Regions from separate parts of the Homo sapiens genome. Here region 1 is linked to region 2. A link means that fine-mapping ties the variant in region 2 to the plasma level of a protein whose gene starts in the linked region. Region 2 holds a variant in brackets. A gene starts in the other region. All regions are shown on their reverse strands. Region 1 holds the start of ANGPTL1 (angiopoietin like 1). Region 2 holds the start of GALNT12 (polypeptide N-acetylgalactosaminyltransferase 12).

What was found. A credible set is the group of variants that fine-mapping cannot tell apart. PIP is the posterior inclusion probability: the model's chance that the variant is causal. The UK Biobank Pharma Proteomics Project read protein levels with antibody pairs (Olink). The fine-mapping took linkage between variants from a reference panel, not from the people measured, so its PIPs are less certain.
Region 1: it holds the start of ANGPTL1, and the variant in region 2 is the best candidate, but not a certain one, in a credible set for the plasma level of the ANGPTL1 protein (UK Biobank, PIP 0.71).

Annotation. Positions count from the first base shown.
Region 1 is chr1:178,869,453-178,877,750 of GRCh38, reverse strand. ANGPTL1 (angiopoietin like 1) reads left to right here and starts at 6,674. Exons shown (of 6, transcript NM_004673.4): 1 at 6,674-7,010. RALGPS2 (Ral GEF with PH domain and SH3 binding motif 2) reads right to left here. Exons shown (of 20, transcript NM_152663.5): 9 at 116-253.
Region 2 is chr9:98,807,464-98,815,743 of GRCh38, reverse strand. GALNT12 (polypeptide N-acetylgalactosaminyltransferase 12) reads right to left here and starts at 8,074. Exons shown (of 10, transcript NM_024642.5): 1 at 7,675-8,074. The coding sequence starts at 8,045. It overlaps LOC124902229 (a long non-coding RNA gene), which reads left to right and starts at 8,164. Exons shown (of 2, transcript XR_007061689.1): 1 at 8,164-8,280. RefSeq lists silencers at 7,933-8,002, 8,103-8,192. The variant T/A (reference allele first, on the strand shown) is at 7,690.

The sequences.
Region 1 (8,298 bases), not on the chromosome of region 2:
ATGGAAATAAGAAATTGATGTCCCCTGCTGTGTGAAAAGTGATCATCAGTGTGTGTAAATAAATCACTGGATTACAGCAATCTTAATGGCTTGGCATTATCCCCTAGAAACTTACCATATTCACAAGACTGCTGTAAATCAGAAATTATTCGAAGGATATTATTCATTAAATTTGATCTTTGCTCATTTTCTAGAATGCTGCCAGTTGATGGGTATGCTGAATCGATGTATGTTAAATCTGACAAATAGATACCTGAAATACAATTAGATAAATGAACGTTTTCTTAGTTGTAGGTTGGGAGACTATGACAAAGAAAAGGGGGGAAGGGGTTGTTTATAGATATATTCCACTGTACGCTACATTTAAAATATATTGCTATTAATACACTGAAGCCTGGGTAACATATGGTTACTGGGGCCTAGCTTTCCATACAGTTGGGGTCAGACATATACCAATTTTTTGTAATAATATGCTATTTTGTAAATGTCTTCTTGTGATTTCATTTTCAAGTATAGTTTGAGGCTAGAGTTAGAAACTCCAGCACATATGGGAATTAATGGAAAGGAGCTGAGTTCTTCAATTGGCTCTGCCTCTGACTAGTTTCATAATGGAGAGTTATTTTAAACTGAGAACCTCAGACTTAAAACCTATGCAAGTATCCATTTTCCAAGGTGTGTTACAACTTGAAGATATTAATTTAGCCAGCAGCCCAGCCACTGACTGACATAGGGAAATTATTTAATATTTGTTTTTACTCTCTTGCCTTGAGTTGATAGCTATCATTTGAGTCTTAACTACTTTGAAAATTATCTCAATCTGGTAGAAATGTTTTACATTTTAAAGATCAACAAATAAATTTCTGAAATGGTTCATGTGACTACAAATTGAAGTTAACTATTTCTTACCCTCCATGCTTTTTGTACCAACAAAAATAACACATCCTCTAAAATTTGGTTGTACTAGTCCTTAACATGAAAGGTCACTTATTTAAGTTTATTTCTGGAGAGTTCACAATGCACATGTGAAATGTATTAGACAACTATAGCTGGAGAGAAAAGAAAAACATACCTTCCTACTTTTACCCCATTACTTCATGTTCATGTACTCTCAGGGTAAATGCAACCAAAATGACATACCCACTGCCTTCTAAATAAACCCTGTTTTTACTCAGCTTTTTCTTATACCTAAAATGTTTTCTGGACTTATCTCTGCCTATCCAAATCTTATATTTTGCTTATCTAATTCGGTGTCAATATTCTCTAGTTTTCTCACAGATTCCAAGAAAGGAATTCAGACACTGTCTAGTCTAATCCTCTCCTTTTATAGATGAAGAACCTGAAATACATAGATAGTAAAGGGACCTGTCTAATGCCATGCAACCTGTTAGTGACAGCTGGATCTCAGACGTTTCACTTATAGCCCAATTTAAAAAAAAATTACTTATATTCTATTAAAAAATCATACATTATGTGTGCTTACTATTCACTTAATGACTTTTATGACTTCAAAATCTCATTACTTATTTTTTTTACATTTATATCTTATCTATTCAAGACTGCAAACTCATTTAAGGCAGTTGCTCTATCTTGCACTCCAAGAGAAAGAAAATCTTGTGCAATGTTTTGACAATAGGTGCTTAACATAAAAGGTTGGCATGGCAATCTTTTTACTCATCCTAGTATCATTCATTTTCCACTCAGTAAATCTTTACAGTATTCTTTAAGTCACCTATCATACTTTTTTTTCTTTAGATAACCTCAACTTTATTTCCCTATGACTCCAAATGAATCTTGAGGTTCCAAATGAAGCTGAGGTTCTTCCCACTTTCCCCAATCTTGGAGGAAGAATCATCTCTCTCTTCTTCCGAAATCTCAACTGTAATTTTGAATGCAATCGTTGCTGCCTCCTTCCAGACAACCACTGTTGCCTCTACTATCATTCACCCCTACTGGCTCCTTCCCCAGAGCCAGTATACATATTTTTTTTTAAACCATTTTTTTTTTCAAGAAAGAGTCTTGCTCTGTCACAGGCTGGAATGCAGTGGTGCGATCTCGGCTCACTGCCACCTCTGCCTTCTGGGTTCAAGTGATTCTTGTGCCTCAGCCACCCGAATAGCTGAGATGACAGGCATGCGCAACCACGCCTGGGTAGTTCTTGCATTTTTAGTAGAGATGGGGTTTCACCATGTTGGCCAGGCTGGTCTCGAACTCCTGGTCTCAAGTGATCCACCCGCCTCAGCCTCCCAAAGTGCTAGGATTACAGGCATGAGCCACTGCACCTGGCCCAATATACATGTTTAAATCTCCCCTACTTATAAAACAAAATCTAAGCAACTCTTCCTTCAAATCTGATCCCACGCCTCAAGATAACATCCTTGTCCTCCCTTCAACAAACACCTTGGAAGAGAAACATACAATAGTACACTTCTTTTATTCTTCGTTCTATTTTTAATGTAATATTTGATACACATGTGTCAGGAAAATTGTGAAAAACTTTGAGATGGGAAAAAAGATTACTGGGTATCCTGTCTCCAGTGCACCCATTTGGTCCTTCTGAGCTATTTTACAACTCTGCACAGCTGTTGAAAACTGGTAATACAAATTATTGTCCATAAACATGCCAAAGAATTATGTCCAGTGGGATCTAATCAGTGATGACCAATTTTGCAACTATTTGTAAATTTACTTCAGCGTTCCTGATTGCATATATGTGTGTTACTTTGAATTCTCCCTTGACACATTTTTGATTCCCTTATAAATTTAATAATTTAAATGAAAATTCTGACACATATTCATTTCATATTTGTGTGAGAATCGTGATTTCACAAAAATTATTGCCGGGAACGGTGGCTCATGCCTGTAATCTCAGCACTTCGGGAGGCTGAGGCGGGCAGACTGCTTAGGAGTTTGAGACCAGTCTGGGCAACATGGTGAGACTCCTGCCCTAAGAAAAAATTATCAACACATGTGACACTTGTTGTTATCAAACAACATAATAAACATTTGTGAAAGACCAGTCAACTTATGACTACAACATCCCTAAGGAGAGCTAAAAGATTCCTCAAGGAAATGGCACGGGGATGTTGGCATATGTACATCAATAACAGCAATAGAAGATATAAAAAAGTAGCACAGAAAAGTTTAAACAGGAGTTTCATAAGAATTCTGTGCAAAAAAATGTCATTCCTTGCTGATGGGATCAGAGAAAGCTTCAAGGAAGAAGTGGGATTTGAGCGGGGTACTAATGTGCCAGTTCTTGCCATTCTTCCATCTTATTAAACTCAGATGACAACTCGCCTGTAGTCACTCGCTATACTGTGCTGTCCAATATAACCACTTGCCACATGTGACTACTGTTTCGTGGGTCTATTCTGAATTGAGGTGTATTTGAATATAAAATAGACAAGATTTTGAAGAGTTAACATGAAAAATTAATGTAAAATATCTATTAACTTTTTTATTGGTTACATGTTAATATTTTAATATGTTGGGGTAAACTACTTTAAAAAAGAACTACGACATCATCAATACTGTTGCATCTATCTGTATGTTCCTTCTCTACTTCATCTCCTTGCTTCCTGTCCAGAAGTAACCATTACCTTGAACTTTAAGATCATTCCCTTATTTTTTCCCCGACATTTGTCTGTATTCCTACTTTTGCCTATTTTTGAGCTTTAAAAATCATATTTTATTGTATGTGTGGATTAAATAATAGTATTTGTAATGTTAGAAAAGTGTCTAGTATGGGAGGCTGAGGCAGGAGAATGGCGAGAACCCAGGAGGCGGAGCTTGTAGTGAGCCGAGATCGTACCACTGCACTCCCGCTTGGGTGACAGAGCAAGACTCCGTCTCAAAAAAAAAGTGTCTAGTACATACCAAGTGATTTATAAGCATTTATTAAATAAAATTTAAAAATATGGTCTTCTGTGGTTGCTTCGTCTATTTTGTTTCTAAGACTTGTCCACGCTGTTAAATGCTGCTGTAATTCCTTATAATGAGAACAAGCTAATGTGTGACAATTGTAACTCATCCATTTTATTTGATAGACTTTTGAGTTACTCCCATCCCACCCCCAACCATGTTGCTATAGACATTCTTATACACATCTCCCAGTACACATGTACAAAATTTCTTCAGGATATACAAACATGCCTAGGAGCAAAACTGCCAAGTGCTAAAGTATATTAATATTCAACTTTACAAGATGGTGTCACATTATTTTTCAAAGCTGTATCAATTCATACTCCCACTCACGGTATATAAGCTTCTGTTGATCCACATTTGTGCTAACAATTGGTATTATCCATCTCAATTTTGCCAATCTTCTGAGTATAAAATGGTATCTCTCTGTGTCTTAATTTTTATTTCCTTGATTAGTAATAAGGTTAAACGTATATATTTCTATGTAATAAATGTTTCTGTTCATTTTTTCTTTTGGGTTGTCTTTTTCTTATGGATTTCTAATTTCTTAATGTATTGTGGACACTAATTTGTCAGTTAAATTTTATCTAGTCACCCTTCAACACACTAAATAATCTGAAATCTGTATGTATCACTTATTTTGGCAATGGCATTAATAACTTTCTCATTCTAAGTCTTAAAACATCTCTCTTGGTCTCCCCTCCCTATGTAATGTCTCTGCAGTATTGTAACCATTCTCGTCTAGTTCTCAGGTTTTCCCTACCTTGAACTTTCGTATCTTCCCCCTAAGCCCCCACCATTCTTCTTTTTCCTCATGTTTCTTGTAAGCTGGTTTCCTGGAAATTGGTATCATGGTCTGTCATTAACCTTCCTTTACATTCTACATGTACTTTCTCTAGTATCTTAGTTCCATAGCTTTAGCTACTACCTAATTGCTGGTGACTTTCAAATCTCTCCATATAACTGAGCTCCTGACTTTCATTTTCAATTTAACATATCTAACCATAATCTGTCCCTAAATACCTGTCATTCCAATTTCCTACCCTGGCTAGTGATATTACTAAGTGCTCAAGTTAGAAAGCTCCAAACTGCTGAAAGTTTAAAAGCTCAGAAAGAATTTATTATCTCTTATTTTTCCCAGATTTAAGCCATTAGTGACTACAACATAATTACTGAATGCTCAAGAAACGATACATAATACAAATCAGAGGCCAGAAGCTGGCAGCACATCTGTCCCAATGTTTTTTAAAATCAGGAAGTATTACAGGAAAAATCTAAATGGCTCTTTTTTCCTGAATAATGGGAAGATCTGGCAACACTGTCTCATAATCCTTCATGGCCACAAGCACAGCTGAGAAGGTGCAGGCAGATCCCTTTAAATTAACCAAAAGGATGCCAACTTGCCATAAACTTCATTTCCCTCCAGTATCTTACTACTGATTTACTTCACTGATTTATATTACCTGCTCCATTCTTCTTGTGAGCATTTGCCTTTCTAGGCCCTTGTGTTTGCAACCTCTGGTATACCTATATATGGCATAGGAATTCAAATAAATGATTCTGTGAAAGAGGTAGAAAATAAGCTCAGACTTTAAATAAAGGATGTGGATCAACAGTGTGGCCTAACAGAAAGAGAAACACAGCACAAGCTACAGCAATAAGGAAGGGAAAGCACAGGTATGTAGAGAAAGCCCAAAAGTTTTATCTAGAAGCAGCTTACAGCAACTAGGTAATCAATGACAGAGAGTGTGGCATAATGCTTTGGCATTAGATTCAAATCCCAGTTCCACTACTTAGTACTTAAGTGCTAAGCTAAGTTACTTAAGCCTAAGTTTGTGTTTCTTCAGCTACTGAGTTATTTAACATTTCTTCAATTAATGAAATACAATAGTATAGTTGTACTCAACACTTATTCATTTCTTCCACCACCTTATTTCATAGCAGAAGAACCTTGCCAGAGGCAGGTAAAGTGATTTGTCTAAGTTCACATAGCTGGCATAGAGTCAGAGCTTCCTTGTTTTTTACTCAGTTCAGGGTTATGTTTGTTTTTAAACCACACCACATCAATTAATAACAAGAATGACCTTTTACAGAGAGGAGAGGTCATTTTGTAGAATAGGAGGATATGACATTATGTAACACCAGAATGTAATATTTAAAAGTCTTAAGCATCTGAAAGAATTTCACTTATGTTTGGTAATTATATATAAAGGCTGTTTTATCTTAAGACACATTACACAGTAAGACATAACATACTACAACAACATCAAGTTTCTTGTAAGTTTAAAACCTTCATTAGCAACTTAGTAAAATGTTTACAAATTCTTCTAGGCTATAAAGAGTATTTATTACATTATTTAGGTGGCTGCCTCCTGACAAAGTCTAGCTCTTGTTCTTTGTTAACAAAAACCAAACTCATCAGCCTGCAACTACTTCTAAGTGAAGTGGAGCACTATTTTTTTTTTCGGTATTCAACTTAAAAGATCTCTGGCCAGCAGACTAAAATGTTTGTTTTATAATTGCCCGCTGAACTATGATAGTTTGTTTCCAGATGGTGCCCTTCCTTCAACCTGCACACAATCTCTCCTTGTTCAAAACTATTCAACCTCCTGCTGATCCCACCCCCCTATTTAAGGCTACAAAGAGGAAATCCTAAGGAGATTCCCGCCCCCAGTCTCCAGCAATTTTTGGTGATGTAATATGTGGGCTGAACTTGAGTCTACTGAGAAAGAGGGAATCACTATTCAGGGGTACTGTATATACAATCTGGGTCAGCTGCAGCTGGTTACTGCATTTCTCCATGTGGCAGACAGAGCAAAGCCACAACGCTTTCTCTGCTGGATTAAAGACGGCCCACAGACCAGAACTTCCACTATACTACTTAAAATTACATAGGTGGCTTGTCAAATTCAATTGATTAGTATTGTAAAAGGAAAAAGAAGTTCCTTCTTACAGCTTGGATTCAACGGTCCAAAACAAAAATGCAGCTGCCATTAAAGTCACAGATGAACAAACTTCTACACTGATTTTTAAAATCAAGAATAAGGGCAGCAAGTTTCTGGATTCACTGAATCAACAGACACAAAAAGGTATTTAATATTTCTTTTATTTAAAAATATTATGTATAGCAAATGCATAACTATTTTATATTTGTAGTAGAAATTTCAGAATCTTTTACTAAACAAAGACCTTTGGAATATACTACAGTTTATCTCATCTGAAAAAGGTTTTATCTTGCAACTTGACATAAAAACATTAAGTACTGTGCAATGGTTAATGCATTATTTGAGGTTCAATTTAATGATGTTTAGTGTATATGATTACAGACTGATACATGCATGCCATGCTGGGTTTCTGAAAACAAGTGCTTTAGTGACAGTAGAAAGAAATTTTAACAAGTAACAGATTAAATGTATAAGGCTTACAGCACAATGATTAAAAACAAAGGAATACAAACTAAATAGTCGTGAACACAATTAGTTTCTCTTCCTGCAGCCACAGTGTGTGTGCTGAAGATATACATAAACTGTTGGATTTCTCAGTGTAGTCATAAAACAAAGCTAAGATACAAAAATAGTTGAAAGTCTTTGCAACAAAATCTCAATTACAGTATAACCAAATATTAAGCAGAAATTCTTGTACAGATTTAAGATTAATCTATGGCATTTCTTGTTCCAACTCAAAATTTTAAATAGCTTTCCAGGCTTACATGTAATAGTAATTTAATTTGGATGACAGAAATTAAACTTGCTACAAATGGAATCACTTGGAAAAGCTAAGTTATTGATATACACACAAAAGCATTATGTAAGTGGTATTAACAATAGAAAATAAGAACCCAGAAGATGTAATTAAATTCATGACTAAAAGGCCAAAAATATGTAATATTTTAGGTAGAAATAATTTTGTTAAGCACACATAAGAGGTTTCCTTCAATATTCTATCTGGGAGCTTTTTTTACATGCATTATAAAAACTATTAAAGATAAAATTACTCGTTACCAATAGTATGCCTTAAACCAAAGACACTTAAGTTTGTTAGATTTGGGGCTCCTTTAGCCTTGTAAAAATTAAAGATATTAATGGTTAAGAATCTTGAACAAGCAAATAATGGTAAAGCTAAAATTTTTTCCAACTTTGCTTTTGTGTCCTTTCCTTAAAGATTTAAAACTGTAAATGCTGGCAGGATTTCTGTTAAACACATATTTTACAAGAAATTCTAACAAAATTTCCAAGCAACAGTGGATCTGAAATACTGTCATCTCTCTTTTTTGTTGTTGCATGCTATGGGAAGTGCAGGACTTCATTAAGCCTCAGTTCTTACTGACGCTGTCTTAAGGCAGGCATTTAATCTGAACCCCAAATTACACAGATAACT
Region 2 (8,280 bases):
TTTTTATATTTTTGTGCATTCTAAAATTGTCCTAAAATGAACATCTATAATTTTTATAATCACAAAGAAATATTATTTTTAAAAGATTAGATCATATTTCTTTAGTTCCTCACAGCAAATGCCTTCATTGAGCAATAATTTAATACTCTGCCCTTTCTCTTTTTCTTGTCCTGGTATAGTTTCTGTTTCTTTTTTGAAAACATCTCCTAAAGGCATTCTGTTTTATGAGGTTCAATACCAATGCCCCTTGACTTACGGTGGGGTTACATCCCAATAAACTCATCGTAAGTTGAAAACATTCTAAGTAGAAAATGCATTTAATACACCTAACCTACTGAACACCACAGCCTAGCCTAGTCTATCTTAAATGTGCTCAGAACACTTCCATTAGTCTATAGTTGGGCAAAATCATCTAACACAAATCTACTGTATAATAAAGTATTGGATACCTCATATAATTTACCAAATATGTACCAAAAGTGAAAACCAGGTTGGTTGCAATGGGTACTATGATAGAGTTGAAAAATCTTAAGTCAAACGATCTTAAATCGGAGATCGTCTGTATATCTTTTTGAAATGTCTTTAAGTTTGCTTCCAGAAAAAAACACTTTCTCCTTTTCCTGACTAATAAAAAGCTGTGCATCTTTTGATCATACAAAGACAGCTATGGATCACTTTAAGGTTCCACTTTTGCCTTGAGGACAAAAGGAAGCTCAGAACTGGATTTAATGCTACATCACAGCACACAATCATTTCCCTAAGTTTCTGGTATATTGCATGTGCTTTGTAAGGGCAGAGACTGAGCTGTGTTTGTCTCTGTATTTTCAGCACGCCTTGTACTTTACCTGGTAGTAACAGTACCATTTGTTGAGTGCTTAATACAGGAGAGGCACCATATAAGCATTTTATACACATTACTTCATGTAGCCTTCCTAACAACCCTACTGGGTAGGGACTACAATAATCTCTGCTGGTAGAATATTTACTTATTATATGGATATGAATGAATTAATGGATACAGTAAATGCCTCTTGATCTTCCTTTTTTTTTTTTTCACCCAGGCTGGAGTGCAGTGGTGGGATCTTGGCTCACTGCCACCTCTGCCTCCCAGGTTCAGGCAATTCTCCTGCCTCAGCCTCCCAAGTAGCTGGGATTACAGGTGTCCGCCACCATGCCTGGCTAATTTTTGTATTTTTAGTAAAGACGTGGTTTCGCCATTTTGGACAGGGCTGGTCTCGAACTCCTGACCTCAAGTGATCCGCCCTCCTTGGCCTCCTAAAGTTCTGGGATTACAGGCATGACCCACTGCACCCAGCCCCTCCTGATCTTCTTTTATCTTTATATTAAGGTTATCACATAAATGTCTTTTAAAAAAAATCAAATCATATCCTCTGTAGAAAAGGCCAAGGAGATCGTGATGTACATTTTTGTGTCTTACCTGCCTAGAATCCTTTCTCCTTTCTTCACTGTACACTGCATCTTGATTTCCCTTTCAAGAGCCAACCTTTTCCAATTCTCAGTCTATGTGGTTTGTGGAGGGCTGAACATACACAAGCACATGCATATACACACAGAGACACACAGACACACACCCCTACCCCTGGGAAGGTTACATGCCTCAGGCCTGACCAATCAATAATTTCGTGATGACATCAATTGAGTCCCTGAATCCAGGGCCCAGAATAACCTGAACTCAGTTCTCATCCCAGACTTTTCTATAATAGAACCCAATATATTTTCTTTTATATTTAAGGCAGTTTGCATTGGGCTTTCAGTTACTTTTAACCAAAAGAATCCTGTCTAGTGTAGAAAATAATTATTTTTAAAAAGTGAATATAGGACTTCTACTTCTGGCAACATGGAAGACTAAGATGTCTAGGGAAACACTCCTGGTATATACACCCAAAAAATCTTGATAAAAAGTTTTTTTTTTTTAAATCTCTTGGCTGGGCGCTGTGGCTCACACCCGTAATCCCAGCACTTTGAGAGGCCAAGGTAGGTGGATCACCTAAGGTCAGGAGTTCAAGACCAGCCTGACCAACATGGTGAAACCCCGTTTCTACTAAAAATACAAAAATTAGCAGGGCATGGTGGCAGGCGCCTATAATCCCAGCTACTAGGGAGAAGCTGAGGCAGAAGAATCACTTGAACCCAGGAGGTGGAGGTTGCAGTGAGCTGAGATCGCACCATTGCACTCCAGCCTGGGCAACAAGAGCAAAACTCCATCTCAAAAAAAAAAAAATTTTTTAAATGGATGGCTTAGCCGACAGGAAAGTAAAAGAAGTCTTCTTCATGAAGGAACAACAAGAAAACACTAATCTAGATAACATAATTACCAGACATAGAGTATAAAATAAGTATGCTTAATATGCTTAAATAAAAGAAGACCTCAAATGAATGACAAAGAAACAAGAATGACAGAGAGATCTGGGTCACTGTAGGCATCTCATAGCAATGGTGCAAACCAGATGACAAGGGAATAATACCTTCAAATGTCAAACTACCAATGTAGAATTATATACCCAGCAAAACTTTCATGAACAAGAGCAAAATAAAAACATTTTCAGATAAAGAAAACTGAGGACTAACAATAGACCTCTCTACAGCAATTAATACATGATGTATTTCAGGAAGAAGGAGAAGAATCCCAGAAAGGTCTCTGACTCAGGAAAGAATAGTGAGCAGAGAAAATGGTAAACTTGTGGATAAATCTGAACAAATAAATACTGCATTTTTAGCTATTCTAATTTGTTGGTTTAAAAGCAAGACAGAATTAAAATATTGGAGCAAAATGGCATACAAATTAGGAGAGAAGATGATCAATACTAAAGCATTCTATGGTCCATAGTTAATATTTAATTTTAGACTTTGTTGAGTTAAATATGTACTTTAAAATTTACCACTAAGGTTAGAAATAGATAATATAACTACTAAATTAGTAGAGAGGAAAAAAATGGAATGAGGGGAAAAGCCTCTATCGACTCAAAAAGCAGTAGGAAAAAAGAGGGGGAAAACACCAAAAAAGCATAACAAATGAAAACATAAAATAAGACAGCACTATCAAATCCAAAAGCATCAGTAAGCACAATAAATGTAAGTGGATATAACTATCTTGTTAAAAGTTAATGATTGTCAGTTTGGATTTTTCTTTTTAAATGGAGTCTTGTTCTGTCGCCCAGGCTGGAGTACAGTGGTGCAATCTTGGCTCACTGCAACCTCCAGCCTCCTGGGTTCAAGTAATTCTCCTGCCTCAGCCTCCCAAGTAGCTGGGACTACAGACACCCACCACCACGCCCAGCTAATTTTTCTATTTTTAGTACAGACAGGTTTTCACCATGTTGGCCAGGCTAATCTCGAACTCCTGACCTCAAGTGATCCACCCACCTCGGCCTTCCAAAGTGTTGAGATTATAGGCGTGAGCCACCACTCCTGGCCTGGATTTTTTTTTAATGACAACACAAAATCGAGCAACATACTATTCAAAGACACACCAAAAACATATGGACACAGAATGAGTGAAAGAAAAAGGTATCAGGAAAATACTAACCGAAATTGAACATGTTCTGTGGATTTGAAGTACTGGAGTACTGACTCAAGAAAGAATGCCACTCTGATGTTCTCAAGATGGATCTAATAAGAATTCATAAAATATCCACAACTTTGTTGGGGAAACAAAATAAACATCAGTCTAATGTCCTACTCCCTTCTGCAACCCTAGCAAGACATACTTTTGCTTAATTACCTGTTTAGAACCACTTTGAGGCTGGGCATGGTGGCTCACGCCTATAATCCCAGCACTTTGGGAGGCCAACACGGGCAGATCTCCTGAGGTCAGGAGTCTGAGACCAGCCTGGCCAACATAGTGAAACCCCGTGTCTACTAAAAATACAAAAATTAGCTGGGTGTGGTGGCGCTTGCCTATAATCCCAGCTACTCGGGAGGCTGAGGCAGGAGAATGGCTTGAACCCAGGAGGTGGAGGTTGCAGTGAGCCAAGATCGCACCATTGTACTCCAGCCTGGGCAACATAGCAAGACTCCATCTCAAAAAAAAAAAAAAAAAGAACGACTTCGAGACTCTTTGCCATCCCAGCACCCAAATCCTGACCCCTGAACTCAGACACACATCTGCAATTATAGTATTAACAAGCCTAAAACCAGAGCAAGTCAAGAAATAAAAACACCATGCTTTCCTTGACCAATGGTTCACAGTTCTTCTGCCCTGGTAGAGAATGGCTGGTGTTCACACATATGGGATTCCTGTCATAGATAGACCTGAAGAAATGTCCAGCCCTGAGGGCACTGTCTGTTACTCCACTCTCTCTTCTACTAAATATCAGAATGCAAATGAGAATGATGTTACAGTGATCATCTCAAGTTCCCCGTATTCTATGGAAACTAAAACTTTTTGCAAATTTTGGTACAACATTACTAATAACCATTTCCTTGTGACACACCACTCAGTTGACTATGATGTCATCACTGGCTTGAACTACATTTGACCTGTTATTAATCCTTACTTTCTCTAGTTCTGGTATTCTCCACACCCTCCAAAACACTCACCCTAAATCTTCTGACTCAGAAATCCACAGGCTCTAGGCCAGTAGCTTTCACCCGTGGTTGCATATCAGATTCAGCCTAGGTCCTAGCCACAGATATTCTGATTTCATTGTTTTGGGGAAGATTCCTGGCATCAATATATTTTTTAAAGTTCCCCAGGGCCACACACCCAACTATCTGTCTCCCCACTTTGACCCGCTATCATCTCAGAGTAAAAATTCACCTTCTTTGCTGAGATGCTAGTCATACTATACTACTATGCTTACTGACTTACTTACTATACTTATTTATATTAATATATATTAATACTTACTATGTTACCATGCAAGGAAGGATTCCTAGTCATCATTAGCCTCCTCTTCAATTCAGTGCTGTAACTAACAAAACTATACTCGAATCCACTGGCATGTAAATTATTAGATTCATAGAGGGGCCCAGGTCTATACTGGCTCTCACAGAATTAGGACCAGTACTCTAAAATGTCTTTTTAGTGGTCTGGCCTTCTTCAAGAAGGCAGACACAGTGCCACACCCTGCTGACACCAGGAAGAGTCAAACCAAGTGGTCCCTTAGTCATTCCCAACTCCTTTCCTCTGATAAAAGGCACTGCAGAGTAAAGACTTTCATTAAAAGTCTAGGAGGCACAGCAAAATGTTAACAATGGTTCTCCCTGAGTGGTAGGTTTATTGGGGATTTTCATTTTTTTCCTTTTCTGTTTCTCTGTGCATGCCAACATTTCTAGAGTGAATATGCATTGCTTTCATAATTAAAATAAACATAGAAATAATCATCCCCACCCAAAAAGGGAGGAACGAGTAACAGATATGGACTGTGGCTCTGCCTGAGATGTGCTATGTGACCTGGGGGTGTGGCTTTTCCTCTCTGGTTAGACTAGATGCTCCTCCCTCAGGGCCCTCCCTCCTGCAACATTCAAGGACCCTCATTATCCCTCTGTTTATTAGACTCGCAGAGAACCCCATACCCACACTGTGAACTTATGATCTGCCATTCAGGTTTCTCAGGCAAAATCTCAAGACCCTGATTAGCTCCTGGATGAACTGTAATAAAAGTGAGATGCCACAAAATACCCTGACCCTACTGACCACTCTGAAGTTACATCTCAAAGCCTGGCCCAACAGAGACCCACACAGCTCAGGCTCACCTTTCTCTCTGGCTGGGTAAGAATAACCCAACAGGCCTTGCTGCAGGAATTAGAAGCAGGAGGCATTCACACTCCTTATCATGCTGGGTTTGGCTTAACTTCCAGGGTCAATGCAACAGCAGGATCTACAAGCAAATCCTGAGAGGACACAGGGCAGCTGCGTCACCATGGAGACAGGTTACCATAAGCCCCACAGATTGTCCACAGTGTTTCAAAGAGATATTCACAACCTGCGACAATAAAGGAAGTTGGATCCAGGAAAGAAAAACTACAACCAATCCCTGGATGACTCTCAAAAGCAACCTCTTGAGTACATTCTTGGCAACAGGGAAAGGTGAAAAAACTAAGATTTAAGCACACAGTGTGCTCCCAGGTATTGATGCTTTATTAATTCCTAAGTTGTGTTCTTTCCACTCACTTTTATGTAGAATGCATGGAGACTCACTTTTATGAGTTTCCTATTTCGCAAACGAAGGGAAACCAAGGCTCTGAGAGGCTAAGCAGCTTGCCAGAGATCACAGAAGTGACGAGCAAAAGAACCAGGATTTTATCTCCCCTGGGCTGGATTTAATCTGAAGCTGGGTATAACCTGAAAGCTTCCCCTCCACCTTGCCTCAGCGGGCACCCTCGGGGTTTCGAGGAGCTAAACATGCGTTAGGCTGGTGAGTGGAGGAACTACTATCAATCCCAACAAAGTTTTATTCAAAAAGACTAACAGTGAAAAATGCCTCAGGCAGAAGCATGAGGCTAGGCATGAGGAGATCCCCAAAACAGGGAAGACAGTGGAAACAGTGGGGCAGAGGTGGGGCATCCTCATTCCATCATTCATGGTCTCTCTGGCCAAGGTACCATGGAGCAGGCCCCTAAAATCCTGAGATCAGCATGGTGCCAAGTGGGCCAGAAGGGCCATAGTCCCTCCAGACCAGTCCTACCACATTCCAGCTGAGGGGCCTTGGGTGGGTCACCTATCCTTTCCGAACCTATTTCCACACCTGTAAAGCAGGAATGGCTTGAAGGGGAGAGGAGTGGCAGGTGCCTGGTGCACACGGCAGGCTGCCACCACCAGCTCCAATGGGAACCCCCTCTCTGAGTCCTCTTTTCCTCAAAGTCTGTAAGGAAGGGGCTCAAAAAAGGACTTGGAAGATCCCTGACACTTCGAAGAAAAAGTGAGAGCCCGGGAGGCCCAGCGGCAAAGGTGGCAGCAGCCACCTGTCCTTCCTCCTGCTGCCAGCGTGTGCCCTGGATCCCCACCTAGGCAGGGGCGCAACCTGCCCAGCCAGTAGCTCCAACAGGAACTAGGCCTCTGACCACGCTGGCTCCAGTCCAGCACCACCCACAGGAGTGAGCTGGGGTGGATCACGGCCAGAAGGAGCCCTTCCCACCCCGTGCCCCTTCCCGCCTTCCTCCACCCAAAGCTCAGAAATCCAATGCCCAGGGAGAGCACAAGGAGGCTTTCTAGCGCTGAGGGGGCCTTACAGCCATCTTTCGCTTCACCTGTGGGGCGCTCCCTCGCATCTTGTTTGTCCCTTAGGCCCTGGCACACACAGAGAATGAATGGAGCCGGTCACCGCCCGGAGGAGTTGTCAGTTTCGCGGAGGCACTGCGAGGCGGGCAGAGCGGGGTTGTCCTTTGGGTGCTGGGGGGTCCTCGCCTTAAACCCTTCTGCTTAGCCCTGACCCTCACCTTTTCAGGGAGATGATAACTTCTCAAGGAGAAGGGAGCTAAGAGATCACTAACAGACTTGCCAATTTCTGGTAATTTTTTTTCTACTTTCGTCTTTTTTACTTTCTTGCCTCCCCGCCCCCATGTGAGCTCTTACACTATCGTCTTCGGAGAAAGACTCAATAAGACGCGCCATCCTGGAGACCCCAGCTCCCCGCCCTGCCACTGCTCTGATGGAGAAACTGAGGCCCGGGGCTCTGAGGGCGGGCTTCCTCCCCAGAGCTGTGCACTCACAGCGGGTTCCAGCGC[T/A]CGGGCAGGCGGCGGTGCAGTGAGATGCGGTCGCTGAGGTAGATGTTAATCTGGTGCAGCCGCACGCTCTCCTCCTGCAGCCGCAGCTCCTCGCCCTGCAGCTGCAGCCGCACCGCCTCGCCCCGCGCGCCCAGCGCGTTCGCCGGCACCGGCGGCCGCGGCATGACCGGCTCGCGCCGCCCGGGGCGCGGGGTGCGCGGGGGTCCCGGCTCGGCAGCCCCGGCCCCGGCCCCACGCTGCGCCCGCAGCACCGAGCCCAGCCCGGCCAACGCCAGTAGCGCCAGGAGCACCAACAGCGCCTCCCGGCCGCGCCGCAGTTCCCGCGGGCAGCGCCGCCGCGCCGTGCGCCCCCACATGCGCCCGCCAACTGCAGCCAGCGATCTGCGCGCCCCAAGGCGGCGGTGGAGGCCAGGACCCGGATCCCGGAACCGCCGTGCCGCCCCGCCCCCGGCCCGCCCCACCTGCGCGCCGCCCCCTTTCCGTCCAGCCCCGCGCCAGCCCAAGCGCAGCCCCCGGGGTGGCTCATTTCGGCAGGGTCTTCAAGTGGGCTGGCTGAGACTTGCATCTTCCTTCTTGGGCTATGGTGCATTA